6 linked regions of the Homo sapiens genome follow. The protein of the gene in region 1 purifies or fractionates together with the protein of each later gene. This does not show direct contact. Each region holds a gene or a part of one and is shown in the gene's direction. Other genes may lie near its edges. The genes, in order: SLC16A9, CLCC1, TM9SF3, HIGD1A, ROBO1 and RIOK3.

Evidence for each region.
Region 2: the proteins of SLC16A9 (region 1) and CLCC1 purify together in Homo sapiens (affinity purification with mass spectrometry; one large-scale study listed by BioGRID and IntAct). This does not show direct contact.
Region 3: the proteins of SLC16A9 (region 1) and TM9SF3 purify together in Homo sapiens (affinity purification with mass spectrometry; one large-scale study listed by BioGRID and IntAct). This does not show direct contact.
Region 4: the proteins of SLC16A9 (region 1) and HIGD1A purify together in Homo sapiens (affinity purification with mass spectrometry; one large-scale study listed by BioGRID and IntAct). This does not show direct contact.
Region 5: the proteins of SLC16A9 (region 1) and ROBO1 purify together in Homo sapiens (affinity purification with mass spectrometry; one large-scale study listed by BioGRID and IntAct). This does not show direct contact.
Region 6: the proteins of SLC16A9 (region 1) and RIOK3 purify together in Homo sapiens (affinity purification with mass spectrometry; one large-scale study listed by BioGRID and IntAct). This does not show direct contact.

Annotation. Positions count from the first base shown.
Region 1 is NC_000010.11:59,707,051-59,710,992, reverse strand, and holds the start of SLC16A9 (monocarboxylate transporter 9), read left to right. Parts: upstream 1-1,142; 5' UTR 1,143-1,514; intron 1,515-3,804; exon of another isoform or gene 3,805-3,887; intron 3,888-3,942.
Region 2 is NC_000001.11:108,929,005-108,932,484, reverse strand, and holds the end of CLCC1 (chloride channel CLIC-like protein 1 isoform 1 precursor), read left to right. Parts: 3' UTR 1-2,544; coding exon of another isoform or gene 2,545-2,784; 3' UTR 2,785-2,980; downstream 2,981-3,480. Other genes in the region: GPSM2 (G-protein-signaling modulator 2), read right to left, coding at 2,545-2,784. UniProt on the Homo sapiens protein: Anion-selective channel with Ca(2+)-dependent and voltage-independent gating. Permeable to small monovalent anions with selectivity for bromide > chloride > nitrate > fluoride.
Region 3 is NC_000010.11:96,552,513-96,556,012, reverse strand, and holds part of TM9SF3 (transmembrane 9 superfamily member 3 precursor), read left to right. Parts: intron 1-2,953; coding exon 2,954-3,085; intron 3,086-3,500.
Region 4 is NC_000003.12:42,794,491-42,797,990, reverse strand, and holds part of HIGD1A (HIG1 domain family member 1A, mitochondrial), read left to right. Parts: intron 1-3,500. UniProt on the Homo sapiens protein: Proposed subunit of cytochrome c oxidase (COX, complex IV), which is the terminal component of the mitochondrial respiratory chain that catalyzes the reduction of oxygen to water. May play a role in the assembly of respiratory supercomplexes.
Region 5 is NC_000003.12:79,757,999-79,761,498, reverse strand, and holds part of ROBO1 (roundabout homolog 1 isoform a precursor), read left to right. Parts: intron 1-3,500. UniProt on the Homo sapiens protein: Receptor for SLIT1 and SLIT2 that mediates cellular responses to molecular guidance cues in cellular migration, including axonal navigation at the ventral midline of the neural tube and projection of axons to different regions during neuronal development.
Region 6 is NC_000018.10:23,480,464-23,483,640, forward strand, and holds the end of RIOK3 (serine/threonine-protein kinase RIO3), read left to right. Parts: intron 1-708; coding exon 709-816; 3' UTR 817-2,677; downstream 2,678-3,177.

The DNA of each region.
Region 1 (3,942 bases):
AAATTGAGTAGAAAGGACTGATGGGGGCCAAAAGGGCTGAACCTCCACCACATTTGTGCTGTAAGAAAACATGACATGGTTGCCTAGGCTCCACAGGTTTTTTAAACTCTCATCTCACACAAACTCCATGATACAGGCAAGATTCTTGTAATTTCATAGACAAGGAAACAGAGGCTCAGCAGCTTGATCAGCACTTCTGAAACCAACCCTTTGCCAGGTGTAGAGTCTTCGTCTAGGCCAGGACCTGTCACTTCAGTGTATAAAGGAAGTTCTCATCAAGGTGGTTGATGGCCGCAGTCCCCTTTAAGAAGTAGAAAGTGTGGTGCGGCTTCCCAGAAAAAACACAGAGGAACACAAAAAGTGCATATCACTTTGGAGGTTTCCCACGGCCGGCGAACCACTGGTACCTATGGACAGCCCCCAGCTGCTGCAGTGACTGAGGGATAAAACAGCCATCCATCTCTGCGCGCAAGCCCATTACCAAAGATAGTATTGCCAATGGTAGTATTGTTAGTGCAGTTCAACTGCAGGACAGACTGAACGTCCTTAGAAGCAGCCTGTGTGTGTGTGTGTGTGTGTGTGTGTGTGTGTGTGTGTGTGTGTGTGTGCACCGCAGGACGCCCTCCTTTCCCGCGGAGCTGTCACAAAGGACTGTACTTGGCATCCTCACTCCTCACTTCCCAGGATCACGGACTCCACAAAGTTCTGGTGCCCGTTTCTCCGGGACCACTGCCAGCTGAGCATACAGCTCCGGCCAGGAGGGCGCCAGCGGCCCCGGGAGCCAGGGAGACCAAGGAACACTCGCATTCATTTGTACACCCCGGCTCCCCCCAAACGCGCACGGCCCTTGGCGGGCTTGGCCAGGGCACGTGGTGGGCGGCGGGGGCACAGCGGCGCCTGGGGACGCGCGTGTGTGCGCACCGAGAGGGCGCCTGGCCGACGGCGCCCACCTCTCTCGTGGCTTTGGTGGCTCCAGGCCTGGTAGGGCCGGGGCCGCGGCTCGGGCAGTGCCCTCCCTACTCCTGGCCGGGCCGGGAGCAGCGGGAGCAGGCGCAGCGCCCCTACCGCCCGCTTTTCCGCCTCCATCTCCTCCGCCTCCTCCTCCTCCTTCCCCCAACCACCCGCGCAGTCACAACCGGTTCAGACTGGCCGGGGTGCCCCGCAAAGAGAGACAAGGGAGAAAAAGACAGCAGGGAAAACCCCGGGGAGGAGAAGGCGAAAGAGAAGGTGGAGCTCAGAGAAGGGGGCCGGCTCCCCAGCTCCATGTGGCCGCCGCCGCTGCGGGTCTGTGGGGGCAGAGGGCGGCGGCTCCCGGGGCAGCGCGTAGCGGGACCGATTGCCTAATACTCCGGCAGGGGCCGGGGCCGCAGCTGGCTCGGATAAATAGCCGCCCGGCTGGCCCGGAGCTGCAGGGGAGAGCGGCGGCCGCGATCCCCACCACACCACCAGCCCGGCCGCACGGGGCACTGAGCCGGGTGCTGAGCACCGGAGGCCCCGCCGAGGCCGGGACTCAGGTAAAGGGCTGGAGCTTGCGGGGAGGGTTCCAAAGGTGGGCAGCAGCCCCTGCTGCCCAGCGTCCTAGAGGCAAGAAGTAACTCCGACTCGGAGCAGTAGGAGGGGGCGGTGGAGCAGCATGGAACCGGGCTTTTGTCTGGGGTGTGTGCCGGGGGCTTCGAGTGTCCACGGTGCGCCCGCCCCTCGCCGCCCCCTTTTTGATGGGGTGCTTCTACAAAGTGGGCAAGTTTTCCCGGGAATCCGAAGGCGGCATTTTGTACGGAGTTGAAAGAGAGGGAGGGGGTCCTGGGGGTGGTACGGTGGCCCCCCAGAGAGCTGCCTCTGGACTCCAGAGAGCTTCCAGGGTTGCTGGTGGAAGAGCAGGGAGAGGTGCATGTGATGCAGGTGGGCCTCCATTTCCCAGAGGACCGAAAGGCCTCCAACTGCCTTGGTCCGGAGCGCGAGCAACCAGGTGCCCCCGGAGGGTTGGGAATGGGGCGCCGCGGGTACTCCTGACCTACGTGGAGCGCAGCGCGCAGGGCCGGCGGATTCTGCACGTTGGCGCCAGGTTCAGCACCACCCGGCAGCCCTGGGCGAGCGCGGGAGCCCAGCCTTCGCCACCGCCGCAGGAGGCACCGGCACCGCGCCCACCTGGACCCTCAGCCAGCACTTGGGAGGACTTGGTGCTTAATGCCCCATCTTTGGTTCGCCCTAGGTAACCTGCTCTGGCTTCAGCAGCGCCCAGAGGCTTTCCAGAGAGCTGATAACCACGAACAAACTTGGCTGTCAAAAGCAAATCAATGCTTTACCTTGTTTTCTGGGTGCCTAGTCTATCCAACACAAACTATCCCCGAAGTTTAGTCAGGATTTACGCTAAATATATTACTTATATAGTAAGTTATTCGATATAACATTTTTGGTCAATTTTCTAGGCTACAGTTTTGATGTGTTTTTTAAAAATCTTGAATTAACTGAATAACAGTTCATATTGAAGGTGGATTCTCCCATTCCCTGCACCCAGGATTTTCCGTTGTTCCATCAAATTCTGTAAATCGGTATGCCCTAACAGTTTCTTATATTTGAGTTGGCTTCAGCTTCGAGAAATTCTTCAGGCAGGTTTAGGCAGAGGGCTGAGGAAGCTAGAGAAGATTCCGAAGAGAAAGGATGATTATTTGTTGCATGATTATAGCTTCTTTTAAAACTTCTAATAGGAAAACCCTTCCACTTTCCTGGACCAAATGCAGAGTAAAGTCATTTTCTATTATCTGTTGCAATAATTAATAATAAATATGTAAATGCAGAAAACATGGTTAGTACCCATATCATTGCCAGAAACCAGTCCCGCTCTCCCTCCACCATCAAAAAAAAGTCCTCGCAAGTAGGAATTAGATAAAATAATTTAACCTGCAATTTTGCAACAACTCAGACTTTCAGCACCACCGACCCCCTAATAACATCCCTACTGGTTTCTTCCATTTTTTGTGTAGGCAAGTGGAATAACAGGTATCCTTCATATCCATAGGAAGAGCATTGGGAGGAGCCAAAGATATGGGGAGGTAGATCAAGACATTAGGAAATCTTTTCTGGCTTCTGACTTTGAGTCTGAAAAGGTGGTGTGAATTGGTTGGTGTCTGAATCTTTATCAGGACACATTATGGTGGTCTGGGGTGGATCTGGCCATGCAACTCAAGCTAGAGGATGACAACTACAGAGATGTGGTCACATTTTCAAGTTTTACTTCCTTACCTCAATCTTTCAAACCCCTAATTAATTAGGTAATAAAAATTGTATATATTTATGATGCACACAACACAGTATTTTGAAACAGTAATACATTGTAGAATGGCCCAACCAACATAATTAACCTATATGTATTACGTCACATTTTTATCTTTTGTTTTTTTTTTTTTTTTGGTGTGGTGAGAACACTTCAAATCTACCATCTTAACAATTTTCAAAATTGTGACTATAGTGACTATAGTCACTATGTTGCACAATAGATCTCTTAAACTTATTGCTCCTATCTAACTGAAATTTTGTATCCTTTGACAAACATCTCTTCACCCCAACCCTACCTACTGGTAACCAGGGTTCTACTCTATTCTCTGAGTTCAACAATTTTAGATTCAAGTCTCCCTTCCCTTCCCTTCCCCTCCCTTCCCCTCCCTTCCCTTCCCTTCCCTTCCCTTCCCTTCCCTTCCCTTCCCTTCCCTTCCCTTCCCTCCTCTCCCCTCCCCTCCTCTGCCCTCCCCTCTTTTCCTTCCCTCTTTTCTTCTCTCTCTTCTCTCTCTCTCTTTCTTCTCACTGCAGCCTCGACTTCACCAGGCTCAGGTGATCCTCGCACCTCAGCCTCCCGAGTAGCTGGGACTACAAGCGTGTGCCACCACACCCAGGTAATTTCTGTGTTTTTGTAGAGATGGGGTTTCGCCATGGTTCCCAAGCTGGATT
Region 2 (3,480 bases), on another chromosome or scaffold:
AAGTCTACTTTGACAGCTAGCAAGGCGACATGCAACTGTTGTTGAATGATGACAGCAATTCAGGAAAGACTTAAATATGAAAGCAAATTGAACACATCGGGTGTTTGTTATCAGAAAAGAGATGAGATGAGATAAGACTTGTTTATTGACTAGCCAATATGTCATTAAAATTAAGGTTTATATTGTGAAGCTTTTTTGAAATTTTACTTTTTTTTGAGAGTTTTGCTCTGTCACCCAGGCTGGAGTGAGGTGGTACAATCTCGGCTCACTGCAACCTCCACCTCCCAGGTTCAAGAGATTCTCCTGCCTCAGTCTCCCGAGTAGCTAGGATTACAGATGTGCATCACCATGCCTGGCTAATTTTTGTATTTTTTAGTAGAGATGGGGTTTCACCATGTTGGTCAGGCTGGTCTCGAACTCCTGACCTCAAGTGACCCGCCCTTGTCGGCCTCCCAAAGTGCTGGGATTACAGGCATGAGCCATTGTGCCCAGCCTATATAGTGTGAAGCTTTTAGGAAAATCAGAACAGGGTAGACAGCTGTTAAAAACAATGTTTAAATGGAATAATGTTGAATGTTTACAGGCTGTAAGAACTATTGTATACACAAAATAATACACAAAGTTTGTACTTTGTGTACAAATACAAATTTGTACTTTGTGTACAAATAATACAAAAAGTTTGTATACACAAACTTTTTACGTTGTGGTTTGGTATATTGTCTTAACTGAATTTTCTTATAAGAACCCCATGAAACTTACCTGAGTTTTTAAAATGCTATCCAGGACATCATACCTTATAGTATACATGAAACATAATGTAATCCAGGTTGTAATTTAGAACTTTTTTTTTTTTTTTAGCTGAGCACTTAATGTAATTAATTCCAGGTTATGACTCTTAAAAAACATTGGCCATTAGAGAAATAGTTCTATTTGCCCATCCAAATCACCTGAATGACTTTTTGAAAGAATAGGGGTCCACATCCCCAGATCCCATCCCAGCTGTGCACAGTCTGAAGCAAGCAGAGTGAAACAAGTTGGCAACTTGTTCCAAGCGTGGGCCTTTGCAGTCTGTGATCCAGTGTTACTCCAGGTCCCAGTCTGTCCCATACTTGTCTTTTGCTACAGTTAGTTAGTTACTTTGTTATCATCCCCTTGTAAACTGCCTTCAATATCTGGGATAAGGAAGACAAAGCTTAATGACAACTAAGGTTCTAGCTGACATCTTTCTTTCATATTTAATTTTTGTGAGTTTTCATCTGTTTTCTGTTTGTTTATGTGTCCTAGGTTCTTGACCTAACCACATGGGTTTTGTTTTTTGTTTTTATATTAGAACTTAGAAAAGTTTGTTTTACAGCAGTATTATGGAACAGAAGAGACCATTTTAAATAATTTTTTTAAACAGCCCAAAACACACAAAAGATACTTGTTTTCTAGAGACAGGGTCTTGCTCTGTCACCCAGGCTGGAGTGCAGTGGCACGATCATAGCTCAGTGCAGCCTCCACCTCCTGGGCTCAAGTGGTCCTCCTGCCTCAGCCTCTTAAGCAGTTGGGACTACAGGTGTGTGCCAGCATGCTTGCTGTTTTTTTTTTTTTTGAGACAGAGTCTTGCTCTGTCACTCAGGCTGGAGTCCAGTGGCTTGGTCTCAGCTCACTGCAATCTCTGCCTCCCAGGGGTTCAAGTGATTCTCCTGCCTCAGCCTCCCAAGTAGCTGAAACTACAGGCGCATGCCACCATGCCCAGCTAATTTTTGTATTTTTAGTAGAGACAGGGTTTCACTATGTTGGCCAGGCTGGTCTCAAACTCCCGACCTCAAGTGATCCGCCCGCTTCGGCCTCCCAAAGTGCTGGGATTACAGGTGTGAGCCACTGCGCCTGGCTGCTGATTTATTTTTCATAGACACGGGGGTCTATGTTGCCCAGGTTGGTCTTGAACTCCTAGCCTCAAGCGATCCTCCTGCCTCAGCCTCCCAATGTGCTGGGATTACAGGAATGAGCCACCATGCCCAGCCCAAGAAGTAGAGTTTCTTTTATACTGACTTTGGCCTAAAAAAACAGATTTTCATGGAGGAAAAAAAAACCTAGATTTTTAGTAAGACTATTTTATATACTTTTTTACATTGATCAAGTACATTATTTTTACCAAACAACATTGTTTCCCACTACATCCATGGTTATGTATAAAAAAACGCCATTGTCAATTAAGATGTTAAAAAATTATTTCCATAAGAGTATTAAATTCTAATCTATGATTCACTTAACTTCCTACTTTATAAACACTAGGTAAAGTAATCTCACAAGCTGCCAAAGAACACATCCCAAGCAGTAATCACAGACGATGAAGCACCTTACAGGACCCCTCCACCCTCAAACGCGCATGTCCAGAGAAGTATTAATGCCTTAATAGACTACTGAAGGTTAACTATTTACATCATTCTAAAAATATTTTAAGCTGTATTACAGTGCTATAAATTCTCCTTTTAAGGAAAAAAGTAATAGATTGTTTCCTTACCGTGTTTGAAAGGAAAAAAAATAAATCCATAGTAACTAATGGTCTGCCGATTTTTTCCCTGAATTTTTAAACTCCAACAAAGCATTATTTTGCAAAAAGTCCTTTAGCCCAAAGTCAGTGTCTCTGTTTTGATCTCTTTGTAAAAGAACTCTCTGTTCATCCATTCTCTTTCCCTGGGACCGTAAAATAAGGCTGAAAAAGTCTTCATCTGGTACTGTCGGACCCTTTGTGGTAGCAGGTGGTGGAGCACATCTTTGATCATCTAATCTGGATCCCTAGAAGTTTATGAGAGAGATTAAAAGACATACTGTGGGAAAGAAAGCACCAAGCTATGTTAAATCTCTCAGTCACAACAAGAAAACGCAGTTGTAAACTTTTATTTGGGGCTTCTCAGAAATTAATCTTTGTTTTTATATTGTTCTCTTTAGTTCCCAGCCTGATTTCTGAAAGAAATAATCTTTAAACCTGAAACTGCATAAAATTTTTCCTTTAAAATGGCTTATATAGGTATAGCTGCTTCATTGGTTTAGTACGTGCATTATGTTAAGTCATACTGTTTTAATTATAATTGGTCACAAGGATAAAAGACAAGGTCAACTGTATCTAAGTATGACAGTTCAAGGTTATAATCTAACAGGCATCAACTGTGTAACTTAACAAATCTTTAGAAATATGTACAAACCCCATGAGGAACTACCTTAAAAAAATCACGTCTTAGGCTAGGGGACAGCAAACTGTAACCCAGTGCCGGCTTCTGTAAATGAAGTCATTTTCATTTTCCCATCAATACATATGTTTATATACTATCTATATGGCTGCTTCCCTACTAAATGGCAGAGTTGGGCAGTTGCAATAGATACCATATGGGCGGCAAAGCCTAAAATATTTTCTATCTGGCCTTTTACAGAAAAAGTTTGCCTGCCTCTGTCTTAGGCTGTTAAATCTGTTAAGAAATAGCCCAGAATGAATTT
Region 3 (3,500 bases), about 37 Mb from region 1:
AAAATAGCAGAGCCTTGTTAGAAATTACAACATTTTATGTGTGTCTAATTAGTATAGTTACTAGTAACTATATAAAACTTCTTTTATTTTAAAAAATTTGATAAATTGACTAAAAGATGGTATGTGTCATTTTTCTTTCCCTCTTGAGCTTTTCTGGGTTAACATCTCAGGGTGGGAACAAAATCAAATCTTTGGAAAATCATAGACTGCTTTTATGAACCTTAAATGATACTTTTACAATAAACTCAGATTTATATAACCTTTTTTGAGCAAACATTTCAAAAAACAATGCATTTCTTGGTTCCTTTATAATTTTACTGGATGCTCAATAAATAAATTGTTGAATGAAGTAAGGAATAGTCTTCTGAAGAGGCTGTCTCCTGTTTTTCAAGAAGATCCATAGAGTTTATCTCGTTCCTGAAACCTCAGGGTGGATAACAGAGCCTGGACTGCCCTTCAGTTTCATGCACATATTCAGCACGTTAGCCCAAGTTAACATATGTCCTAATCATACACAGCAATGCATATGTATGTACCTGTAGAATTTTAGAGCAGGAGGATATCTATGAAGAACCGGAATATGTAGATAAGAGGTTTCATGGAGGGGAAGGTACTTGTGTTGGAATATGAAGACTGGGTAGAATTTGCTAAGGGGAGTAGAAGTAGATCTATGTGAGAAGAAATTATAAGAAAAATACAGAGGTGGAAGTGAGTATGCTGTGCTTGTGGATTCTTGAAGAGGGATAAGGCTTATTGGAATATAGAATATAATGGAAAGAAAAGTTGACTAGATAAGGTGAGATGGCCATATTACAGGAAGTATAGAATATTGGAGAAAATAGTTTAGATTTGATATGAGAGAAATAGGGTGTACAACTGTAAATTTTAGAATAGAGGAGTGATATATGAACCTGCTTTGGAAAGATTTCCTTGATAGCTTTTTACAGGATAAATTGAAAGGAAGGGGAGAGACCAAAAAAAAAAAAGGCCAACCAGGAGGCCATTAGTGCTATCAAGGTATGAGGTGATGGCATGGGAATGAAGCAGAATGGATAGATACAAGTCATTTTGAAGAAAAATACATGCTTAATATTACCTATGAAGAATTAAGGAGAAGGAAGAGCCAGAGATAATTGTAAAATTTCAAAGCCACATGTTAGTACCATTAGCAGAAGTTAGAGAATCAGAAACAAGTGTTATATATGAGGTGGAAGATTATGAGTGTACTTTAGGGCAGTCTGAGTCTGCAATTCCAGAAACATTCAAGTGGAAATTATTGTAGTTAGCAAAAGCCTGAAACATGAGTGAGAAAGAAGACTAGCAATTTGGGGTGGGATGGGAGGTGGGGGCGAGGGTGTTATCATCATCATTGGAATGCTGGTTAAAAGTTCTGAGAGCCTAAAGAAGTCACAGCAGAGTACTAAGACTGGAGCTTTTGGAGAAGTTCACAAAGGATGGGAGGAGCCAGCATGGAAGATGAAAGAGGAGAAGCAGCGGTCAGTGAAGTAGGATGCTGTAGTGTCAGGAAAGGTCAGATGTGGCAGAGAGATCAAGGAGAGTGAGGCAGATAATTGGCTGCTGAATCGGTTTAGAAGTTCATTGCAGGCCTTTGAGAGAAATTTTGTGGGGCAAAAGTGAGATTGTATTGTGTTTTGGAGGAAGTGAGGGAAGAACTGGAACATGTCTTCTTTGAAAAGTATTGACATTGAAAGGATCGGGAGGTGAGAAGATGAAAAGAATGAGGGACAAAAGATGAAGCAAACACTTCAAAAGAGAATAATAGCAATAACAATAACTTTTAGGTTTTATTTAGTGTTTATGATGTGCCAGGCACTATACTATTTGCTTTACCTTTATTGTTTAAACTCTATGACAACCCCAGGGAGTAGACATCATTGTAGATAAGGACCTTTGGAGATTGCTGATGGCTGGTGAAAGGTGGAGGGGTTGGGATGCAAAATGAGAGGAGAAAAAACACCTCAAAACTGGATGTGGAAAGGTTGTGTCATAGAAGACAGGATTTGCTTCAAGGGAAGGCAGCAGAAAGGATGGCATTGGGGCCTTGAAGAGAGGAGAGAAATTTGGGGACTATCCCTAAAGATCTTTTGGGAATTAAAATGTAAATAAAGAAATAACTGGGCAGTGCCACAGACCTAGTTCAAATCAGATATGCTACATTTTGAGTAGTACCTTGTGATTATGAATCAGAATCTAGATGTAATATTGAAACAAATATGTGGATAAAATCAAAGCCAAGAGCTTCAAGAACATTGAGGAACTAAAGGATACCTCAATATGCTATGGAAAATGGATTTGGAAAGGGCTGAATTATGATGGTGACAGGGTGAGGATGAACTAATCTGGAGCAAGTGAAGCAAATCATTCAGGATGGTGACCTAAGTCCATGGCAGCCAGCTATAATAGTTTAGTCTTAGTATTTTAAGGAGGTTTTCAGATTGTTCAATTAGGGGGAAGGGAACTAACATTTACTGAGTATCTAAGGTGCCATACTTTATATATACATTATTAAGCCCTACAAATCACTTACAAGATAAGTATTAGCTCCTCCATTTTCCAGATGAGAAAACCGCGGTCACATAGTCAGAAACTGGCAATGTTTGACTCCAGAGCCCATGTTTTTTCCATGTAATGCTGAATAGCATAGGTTATATGGCCAAATTGTACTTTTTGTTTTTAACAATAAATTTGATTTTGAAAATTTATATAAATGATAGCATGTTTTCAACATATGGGTGCTTATTGTAAAGAAAGCCAATCCCCTTGGCATAATGAATACTCATCCTCAAAGTGTCTGAAATTTGGATTTTTGTCTAAAGGATTTAATTAAAGACTTTTTTTTTTCTTTGCATTAACATCCGGTTGTCCTCATGGAACCTATGAATTTTGTGGCTGATATTGCAGGTTGGTAACATTTTATTTTCTGTTATTTTAGATTCATTGGTTTTCAATTTTCAACTCCTTCATGATGGTGATCTTCTTGGTGGGCTTAGTTTCAATGATTTTAATGAGAACATTAAGAAAAGATTATGCTCGGTACAGTAAAGAGGAAGAAATGGATGATATGGTGAGTAAACATTTACATTATATTTGTAGAAACATTTTAACTGAGTGTTAAGTTTTAAATGTTGGGAGGTAGGTCATAATTTCTTACCGGAAGTCTTTGAGTTTCCACAATTCAGGATTTTTAGAGTTAAGAAAGATGTAAAATGCCCAGTGTGGTCTGTAACCATGCCCTGTAATCAAATAATATTAATTTTTTTTCAGGAAAACATAAGAACATTCACCCGAAGTGGGATAAATAAATAGTGTAACCTCTTGTTAGTTCAAGCCAAGTTTTGCCACCAAGTAAGAATATGTCTAATACTGTTAAATACTGCTTAAAATTCAGGGAATGGGTAGAAGGATTAATTTATGTTCAGTTTAGTGGGTTCAGAGGAAAGATTTGTTTTCTAAGTTCTTTTACTAAGTTAGAGAACAAA
Region 4 (3,500 bases), on another chromosome or scaffold:
CCGGGCGGCTGGCCGGGCGGGGGGCTGACCCCCCCACCTCCCTCCCGGATGGCACGGCTGGCCGGGCGGGGGGCTGACCCCCCACCTCCCTCCCGGATGGGGCGGCTGGCCGGGCGGGGGGCTGACCCCCCCTCACCTCCCTCCCGGACGGGGTGGCTGCCGGGCGGAGATGCTCCTCACTTCCCAGATGGGGTGGCTGCTGGGCGGAGAGGCTCCTCACTTCTCAGACGGGGCAGCTGCCGGGCGGAGGGGCTCCTCACTTCTCAGACGGGGTGGTTGCCAGGCAGAGGGTCTCCTCACTTCTCAGACGGGGCGGCCGGGCAGAGACGCTCCTCACCTCCCAGACGGGGTCTCGGCCGGGCAGAGGCGCTCCTCACATCCCAGATGGGGCGGTGGGGCAGAGGCGCTCCCCACATCTCAGACGATGGGCGGCCGGGCAGAGACGCTCCTCACTTCCTAGATGTGATGGCGGCTGGGAAGAGGCGCTCCTCACTTCCTAGATGGGATGGCGGCCGGGCGGAGACGCTCCTCACTTCCCAGACTGGGCGGCCGGGCAGAGGGGCTCCTCACATCCCAGACGATGGGCGGCCAGGCAGAGACACTCCTCACTTCCCAGACGGGGTGGCGGCCGGGCAGAGGCTGCAATCTCGGCACTTTGGGAGGCCAAGGCAGGCGGCTGGGAGGTGGAGGTTGTAGTGAGCCGAGATCACGCCACTGCACTCCAGCCTGGGCACCACTGAGCACTGAGTGAACGAGACTCCGTCTGCAATCCCGGCACCTCGGGAGGCCGAGGTTGGCGGATCACTCGCGGTTAGGGGCTGGAGACCGGCCCGGCCAACACAGCGAAACCCCGTCTCCACCAAAACCAGTCAGGCGTGGCGGCGCGTGCCTGCAATCGCAGGCACTCGGCAGGCTGAGGCAGGAGAATCAGGCAGGGAGGTTGCAGTGAGCCGAGATGGCAGCAGTACAGTCCAGCTTCGGCTCCGCATGAGAGGGAGACCGTGGGGAGAGGGAGACGGAGACGGAGACGGAGACGGAGACGGAGAAGGAGGGAGAGGGAGAGGGAGACGGAGAGGGAGACGGAGAGGGAGAGGGAGAGGGAGAGGGACGGAAGTTATAAGATTCTAACCCTCCCTAAAATGCTCCTAAGATCAGTGCTTGAGATATTTTGCAGACCCTGCACTTGATAGACCAACTGGCACCACCCAGATCAATAAACTGGCTCGTCTGATCTTATGTCCCCTACCTAGGAACTGACTCAGCACAAGAGGACAGCTTCAACTTCCCATTTCATCTCCAACCCAACCAATCAGCACTCTGTTCTCTGGCCTTCCCCCACCCACCAAATTATCCTTAAAAACTGATCCCTGAATGCTCCAAGAGACTGATTTGACTAATAATAAAAATCCTGGTCTCCCACACAGCTGGCTTTGGGTGAATTGCTCTTTCTCTATTGCAATTCCCCTGTCTTGGTAAATCAGCTCTGTCTAGCCAGCGGGCAAGGTGAACCTGTTTGGCGGTTACATGATTTCTCTTTTTTTTTTAAAAAAAAAAACAACAACTAATTTTTGAACGATTAATTACTTTAGTGTTTATATTGTATTATTCAGATATATAGTGAGTATCTTGAACCTTGAGCTTATTGAACCTTATATATAATAAAGCTCATTACTTAGGAGTTTATTCAGTTAAGAAGTAATGGAGTACAAAAAGAAGGTTTAAGTCCAATCTAAATTTTCTTTTATTTAGCTAAGATTTTCTTCTATGTCAGATGACAGTTGAGTCTTCTCAATGAAGGTGAGGCTTATAGGGATGAATTCACTTTCTAAACTAAGCACACCACCCCCTCCGGAGTTGCATTTTTGTTGAGGACCTTAACTGCCACTGACTCCCCTTGAGTAGCAAGGTGTTGAATGAGAGGTACTTTTATCAAAGGGAGCATAATGCACATGAAAAACCCAGAAGTGAAAGTAAGATTTTATATGGGTGTTAGGATGGGCATAGACTTTTAAGTTTATTGTAATTGACACTAATTAGAGACTTGTATGCTTACACTATGCTTCAGGCCCTTATTTTATCTGTGAGTAAAGTTTATTGCAATTCAAAATAGTTCAGTGAAGAAAGTATACTTTGTTATTGTGGCTAAAATGAAATAGCATTTGTTAATGCCTCATTGTGATAAAAGGGCTATTCACGGAGATGACTGAAAAGGAGGAAAGGAGCCTTTGATCCCTGTGATAATGAAAATGAATCCTTTTTTTTTTTTTCCTATCCCCTTACTCATACACTATCAGGCTAGATCTTGCCTTTGGGATACCATTTAAAGGAATTATAAAAAGAGGGTAGAGTTTTAAAAGGAAGCCTAGGGGATATAAGGTATGTAAATGAAGGCAGATCTGAAGCTTAGAAGATATTAAGAAGACCCTGAGGGTAATTCAGTTTTGTGCTGCAGTGATGTTAAAAGGTGCTAATCATAGGGCCAGGTGTGGTAGCTCATGCCTGTAATCCCAACACTGGGAGGCAGGTGGATCACCTGAGGTCAGGAGTTCGAGACCAGCCTGGTCAAGATGGTGAAACCCCATCTCTACTAAAAATACAAAAAAAATTAGCCAGGCATGGTGGCAGGCACTTCTAATCCCAGGTATTTGGGAGGCTGAGGCAGGAGAATCACTTGAACCTGGGAGGCAGAGGTTGCAGTGAACCAAGACTACGCCATTGCACTCCAGCCTGGGCAACAAGAACGAAACTCCATCTCAAAAAAAAAAAAAAAAGCTAATCATAAGCTGGCACAGTGGCTCACACCTGTAATCCCAGCAGTTTGGGAGGCTGAGGTGGGTGGATCACGTGAGGTCAGGAGTGAAACCCTGTCTCTACTAAAGAATACAAAAAAATTAGGCACGGTGGTGTGTGCCAAATGGAGGTTGCAGTGAGCCGAGATCGTGCCACTGCACTCCACCCTGGGCAACAGAGCAAGACTCAGTCTCAAAAAAGAAAAAAAACTAATCATAGGTCATTAAAAAAATCTAAAAGGCTATGAAGGAGACATTTCTACCAATATTTAAAATAAAAGCTTTGTTCTTAAAATGAGTAAATAATGAGCTAGGTAGAAACTTTGGCTATTCAGAATAATCTTTTCCCCAGAGGCAACCACCATGGATAACAGATTACTGTAATAGACTGGAAACTAATCTGAAGTGAAAATTGAAGCAAGGAAGCACATTGGAATAAATAAATCAGCAGTTGAAAGCAATAAAGACTGCATTTAACTACACCGAAAAGTGCTAAGTAGGATTTCCAACATGATATTGAAGGTTCAATAGGAGTTGTCAGTTTGGTTTGAGTAACTTAAAATTGTCAAGTTAAATAGTTGATTAAGGATGAAGATAGCCAGAAAATTAGTAGCTACTATTTTAATTGATAAAAGTAACATCAATTTAAAATTTTTCACTATTTTTAATTAACATGGTGCTAAAAATGAATGGGTTGTACAGGGGAAACGG
Region 5 (3,500 bases), on another chromosome or scaffold:
TTACCACCCAGGTTAAGTAATAAAAGATTAAATGTAATATTGAAGTTTTCTGGGTACTCTTCCAGATTGAATCTCCCTTCTAAGAGGTAACCAGTGTGGTAAATTTGCTGTTATTATTTCTATGCATTTTCTCTTGAGTTTACTGTATATATTACATATTTAATTCATATATAGTATTGTCTTAAGTAAATAAAATATTAGCCTAAATTGTCAAATATTGTTTGCATTCTTGGAAATATTTTTTTATGATTAATTCAAGTTGCTTCGGGTACAGTTACTTTATTCATATTCATTGCAATATAGTGTTCTATAAATACTATAAGTATATACATATATTATATTTTTAAATATATTATTATTATATATTTAGTAGGTATGGTAAAAATATATAGTATATTTTATATATAGTACATATATTTCATATATAATATAGTGCATATATATTATAGTATATATACAGTATTAAAATATGTATTATATTTTATGTTTTTCTCTCTCATTTATAGGTATTTTTCTTACTATAACAGACTGTAGCAATTTTTTGGCACATGTCTCACTGTGCACACATACTTTTTAGATATTTGCCTAGAAGTGAAATTGCTGATGACGTGTAATGTGTTTCTTCTCTTTTTTGCCCCCAAACCCATAACAGTACCCTGTAGTATTTGTAATTTGCAAAATTACATAATTTGTAATTATGTTTAGCCAGAATTAAAGACCATTTTTTAAGACAAACTGTATAATCTCTTATACTTGTGAAAGCCCCCATGAATATTTAATAATGTCACATTTTGTAATTTTGCCAGTTGAATGGTTTTAATTTGTCTTTTCTGATTATTAGTGTGGTGAGCATGTTTTCATAGAACATTCAGGTTTTTTTTTTTTGCTGTGAATTGCTTAAACATAATTTTTACCCATTTCTCTAGTGAGACATTTATCTTTTTTCTTATAGATTATACAAATTCTTTATATATCCTGGATTCTATTTTTTTTTTTTTTTTGGTATTGCATTGGAAATATATTTTCCTAGGCTGTTTTATCTTTTTTCTTCTTAATGAAGGAAATAATTTTGTATCGTTTTTTCAAATATGATATACACTGTGCTTTGTTAAAATTGATTACCTTTTATTACATTTTTCCTTTTTCCATCTTGTTTTGGGAAACCAATCTTTATGGTGAAGTCATAAAATACTTCTTATATTTTTTCTGAAAATTTTTCACTTGTGCTTTTTTTTTTTTTTTTTTTTTTTTTTTTTTTTTTTGAGATAGGGTCTCACTGTCTCACCCAGGCTGGAGTGCAGTGGCGCGATCTCGGCTCACTGCAACCTCCGCCTCCTAGGTTCAAGCAATTCTCCTGGCTCAGCCTCCCGAGTAACTGGGACTACAGATGCACACCACCACACCCAGATAATTTTTGTATTTTTAGTAGAGATAGGGTTTCACCTTATTGGCCAGGCTGGACTCAAACTCCTGACCTCAGGTGATCCACCCACCTCAACCTCCCAAAGTGCTGGGATTACAGGCATGAGCCACCACTCCCCGCCTCAGTTTTGCTTTTTACATTCAGGTCTTTTGATCTACCTGGAATTGATTTTTTGTTTTATGTGCTGAAAAATATGACTGCCACTCATAAGTGTTCCATATGTGGGTGGGCTAGCACTGCCATTTGTTTATAAGGCTGGTTGGCATCTGTCCTCATGTGAGACACTTGTTTCTGGTTATTGTCTGTCAGGTTGGTTTGTGGATGGTCATCTCACTGAATCATCACAATGTTAATGAACCAAAGTGAAAAGCATTAATTAAGACTTCAAACAAAATCGGATTATGTTTAGCCAGAATTAAAGACCATTTTTTTAAGACAAACTGTATAATCTCTTTAAATCGTATGTGAATTGCTCATGTTCAATGAGTCCTTAGCTATGCATAGCGTCATTTACTTAGTTTTAGTTCTTTATAGAGTATATTAATGAATCCTGTTTACTAAGGATGAACTTTCCTTGTGTATAGGACTATAGCAAAGGTAAACCTTAGAAATGGACTTCAGTACTTGGAAGGAAGAAGCATGACTCACTGTACGACTGTTGCATGACTGACCATTTGCCAGGTGAATTAGAACCTGGAGACAGAACATTTCAGCACAACAGCCAACAGCTTCTGATCAATGTGTAACCCTTGAATAAGCACTCAAAAATATTAATCCAAGCACAAAATGTTTCGAAAGGAAATTATTCCATCATATTGTATATATTATATTAAATTTTACCCTGGAATGAGGAACTAGGAAGATTGTAAAACAACTTCACTTACTTATACGCAGTCATAGAAAGTATTCTGTAAGAATTTACTTTTTATTCTCCAATTAAAAACCTCATACTAAACAAGCATGCTTTGTGCTAAACAAGTATTGGATTATTTAAATATTGGGTATTAATTTAAGAGAGTGTTAAAAAATGGCCTGGTTTAGCCAATGACAGATGCATAAATTCATAAGCTTACCTAAAATTAATCTCTATACCAAATATAAATTATATTCATACCAATAATTTTGATTTCTTCCAGTTAATGGTTTTTGTCACAATTCTGATAAAGGAAAGAAATTATTTTGGAAAATGAACAAATTTATTGTGTGCTTTTATTCATTCTTTTTGGCCCTTTTTTATATGACTTCAAGTTTGAGTTCTTCAGCACTCTGCCTTTCATAGACTCCAGGCTACTTTCCTAAGTTCTTTCCCTTTCCCCACCTGTCTCCTAAGTATAGTCTGCCTTACAATACAAGGTACACTTTACCCTCCCTCAACACACCACTCTGTTTCCAACTCATTGCCTTCCCCTTCTTGTCTTCTCAAAATACCTTTCTTCTTTTCTCTCTGTAGAGAATATGTTCATCCTTCAAGATATAACTTTATTGTTATGACCCTTCTGAATCATATTCCTATAGAAAGATCATCTCTCTCTCATTCGTGTTTGAATAAGACTGAGCACTTACCTGTATTACCCTTTAGTACAGCATTATTTGTGTCAATCTTAATAATCAGACTGTGACTAACTAGGACAAAGATGACAACAATATATCACTGTATTTATCTAAACTTGTACTGTCTAATACTCTAACCACTAGCTACATGTGCCTATTGACACTGAAAATGTGCTAGTGCAACAAAGGAACTGATTTTTAAATTAAATTTATTTTAATTTAGAGTTTCAGTTTAGATAGCCAATTTTATGCAATGAATATGTGGCTGGTGGCTACTGTCTTGGATAGAGCAGATACAGACGGTTTCCATCATCAGAGAAAGTTCTATTGGACAGTGTTGGGAAGAATAGACTCACAGTAAAATTAGAAGGAGATGAATTTATGAATAAAATAGTTTTACAGGGCATGGTAATAACATCAATGCTTTAATTTTCAGTGGATAGCTGCCACAGAGTTGTATTATACTAATGATTGTGTTGGTAAGGATAATTTTGCAACTTTGCAGATTTCAGCATGTCCTGCAAAG
Region 6 (3,177 bases), on another chromosome or scaffold:
CTAGCTGGATAAAGATAGTAAATATTGACCCTTGCAATCAAGTTAAAAAAAATACATGTATGTATGACTATTTGTGTATACTTGGATGCACGCACACACACACACACACACACACACACACACACACATAGTAATTTCAACTCAAAGGCAGAATCATTAGGAATAACCTAGTTTTTAAGCGAGTAAAAATTACTGGCTCAGCCAGGCATGGCAGCTCACTCCTGTTATATCTGTTATCCCAACACTTTGGGAGGCCAAGGAGGGAGGATCTCTTGAGCCCAGGAGTTTGAGACCAGCCTGAGCAACATAAACTCCATTAAAAAATAAAAAATAAAAAAACTGGCTGGACACGGTGGCTCACGCCTGTAATCCTAGCACTCTGAGAGGCCAAGGCGGGTGGAACACCTGAGGTCAGGAGTTCGAGACCAGCCTGGGCAACATAGTGAAACCCGTCTTTACTAAAAATACAAAAATTAGCTGGCGTGGTGGCACATGTGTCCCAGCTACTAGGGAGGCTGAGGCAGGAGAATTGCTTGAACCCAGGAGGCAGAGGTTGCAGTGAGCCGAGATTGCACCACTGCACTCCAGCCTGGACGACAGAGTGAGACTCCATCTCAAAAAAAGAAAAAAATTACTAGCACAATCTAAAATATGGTTTCTGTGAAAAGTAGGATTTTGACAAATGGATTCAATGTATTATTTTTGTAGATAGAAGCTTTGGAGAAAATGAATGAAGATCACGTTCAGAAGAATGGAAGGAAAGCTGCTTCATTTTTGAAAGATGATGGAGACCCACCACTACTATATGATGAATAGCACTAATACCCACTGCTTCAGTGTTAACACAGCAGTGATTGTCAGCTGCCAATAGCAAATGAAGTTATGGGTGACTTGAAATACCAAAACCTGAGGAGTGGGCAATGGTGCTTCTGTGCTTTTCCCCCTTGTAACCCATGTGCCAGATGTGTGGAATTTTTAGCTCAGCATTGAGAGAATAAAATGTCACTACCTCTCATCTTATGAACAGGATAATATAATTCTTTAACAGCTATAGGTTATCTGGCTGAAGTAGACCTAATTTTATGTGACTTGTGGTGTAAAATGTCTTGATGATAATTTTTAAAACTTGGGTAACACTTCCAAATATGGGAGGAAAGGACAGATGTGTTTACAAGGGAGGATTTTACAACATACTTGCTTTATTCACCTCCCTGTTTTGTGTTGCGTCTTTCCTTGAATATTTTATTGGCCCAGAGTTAGCCTTTCTCAATTATGTTTCCAGACTGTGGCCGTGATTCTAAAGGAAAATGTGTGCTCTTTAGTGGGTAGAACAAATGGAAATTTGGTTTCAGAATGGCTGACAGAAATCGACATAAGTCATGTAATTTTTGTTGATATATCATGAAAATGAACAGAATTCTTTTTCCATACTTATATCTAAGAAAAGGCATCATAGGTTTCTGAAAGAGATAACTATATAACAGCTTTTTAACTATCCAGTCAACTTTCAGCTTTTCTACATTTAGGTAAAATGGTTAGGATATAACTCATGGTGTGGCTAATCTACATTTATCAATAAAATGTAAATTATCTGAAAGGACAGAATATAAGATTTAACCATGTTTGACGTATTTTAATTTAGTTAATGAAGCAAAATTCAGTTTATATTTCACTAGAACTGTGTACTTGATTGATTTTCAGAGAAATATCACAAATTAGAAATATTAAATCTAAGGATGAAAGGTATATATAAAACAATTTGGGGGCCAGGCACGATGGCTCAAACCTGTAATCCCAGCACTTTGGGAGACCAAGGCGGGTGGATCACTTGAGGTCAGGAGTTCAAGACCAGCCTGGGCAACATGGCGAAACCCTGTCTCTACTAAAAATACAAAAATTAGCCGGGTGTGGTGGCACTTCTCTGTAATCTCAGCTTCTCAGGAGGCTGAGACAGGAGAATCGCTTGAACCCGGGAGGCAGAGGTTGCAGTGAGCTGAGATCATGCCACTGCACTCCGGCCTAGGTGACAGAGGGAAACTCCATCTCCAGGAAAAAAAAAAAAAAACCCAATTTGGATACCAAATTAATCAACTAATTTGAGCTATCTGGCCTTACTCTTAGTAGTTTTTAGTACGTGCTGGACACCACTTTTAAAAAGCAATCACTGTGCTAGAAAAGTATATTGGCTTTGTTAGGATTAAAGTTCATTAACTTCAATGTAATCATGCCTCCTATTACTGAAGTCAGATTGGAACCACTAAAGATCCAAACTTTCTGTCTGGTAATAGAAAGTAAAAATCTAGACATCATTTACATTTGAGAAAGCTGTTTTTAACATTATTTTAAAATGCCAAATATGTTCTTTCTAGAAAAATATTTATTTTTGTTTTTGTTGGATAGCTTTTAATTACATTTCAGAGAGGTGTAATTTTGGGTAGATGCTCATTACATTTTTGAAAGGTTTATGATTCCAAAATAAAGATTTATATGACTGGTGATACTGGCTTTACAGAAATTTCAGAGAACTAATTTTTAAAATCTTTAGCATTTAAAACTTTTTTTGTTTTGTTTTCTGACATATTCTGACAAAGAGCAGCAAACCACTGCTGTGTGGCATTCTTGGAGTGTGCTGTGAATGTGCTTTTTAAGAAATTAAAAAGAGATCATTTTAAAATTGGTTCTTTGTGTGGTATCTTCCTGTTCCTTATATTAACTTATGTCCTGGTACCAAGTTGCTGTTTCTGTATAAAGTTAAGCAATGCTATTTTAAGTAGATTATTCCCCCTCAACTTCTCATTGTTAGATTTCAATCGCAAATGGCCTACTTCACATTACAAATAGGTTCCCCCCCTCACACCTTGTAGATTAGAGAGTAGATTTTTTTCCCATAGTAGAAAAAGAAAGTGAAAAATACTGGTTTGCTAAGTAAATAAAAAATCAAATACTGGCTGGGCGTGGTGGCTCACACCTGTAATCCCAATACGTTGGGATGCTGAGGCAGGATGATCACTTGAGCCTAGGAGTTTGAGATCTGCCTGAGCAGCATAGCAGACCTCATCTCTACAAAACATTAGGTGAGTGTGGTGGCATGCATCTCTGGTCCCAGCTACTTGGGAGGCTGAGGCAGGAGGATTCTTAGAGCTCAGGAGATCAAGCCTGCAGTGAGCTATGGTCACA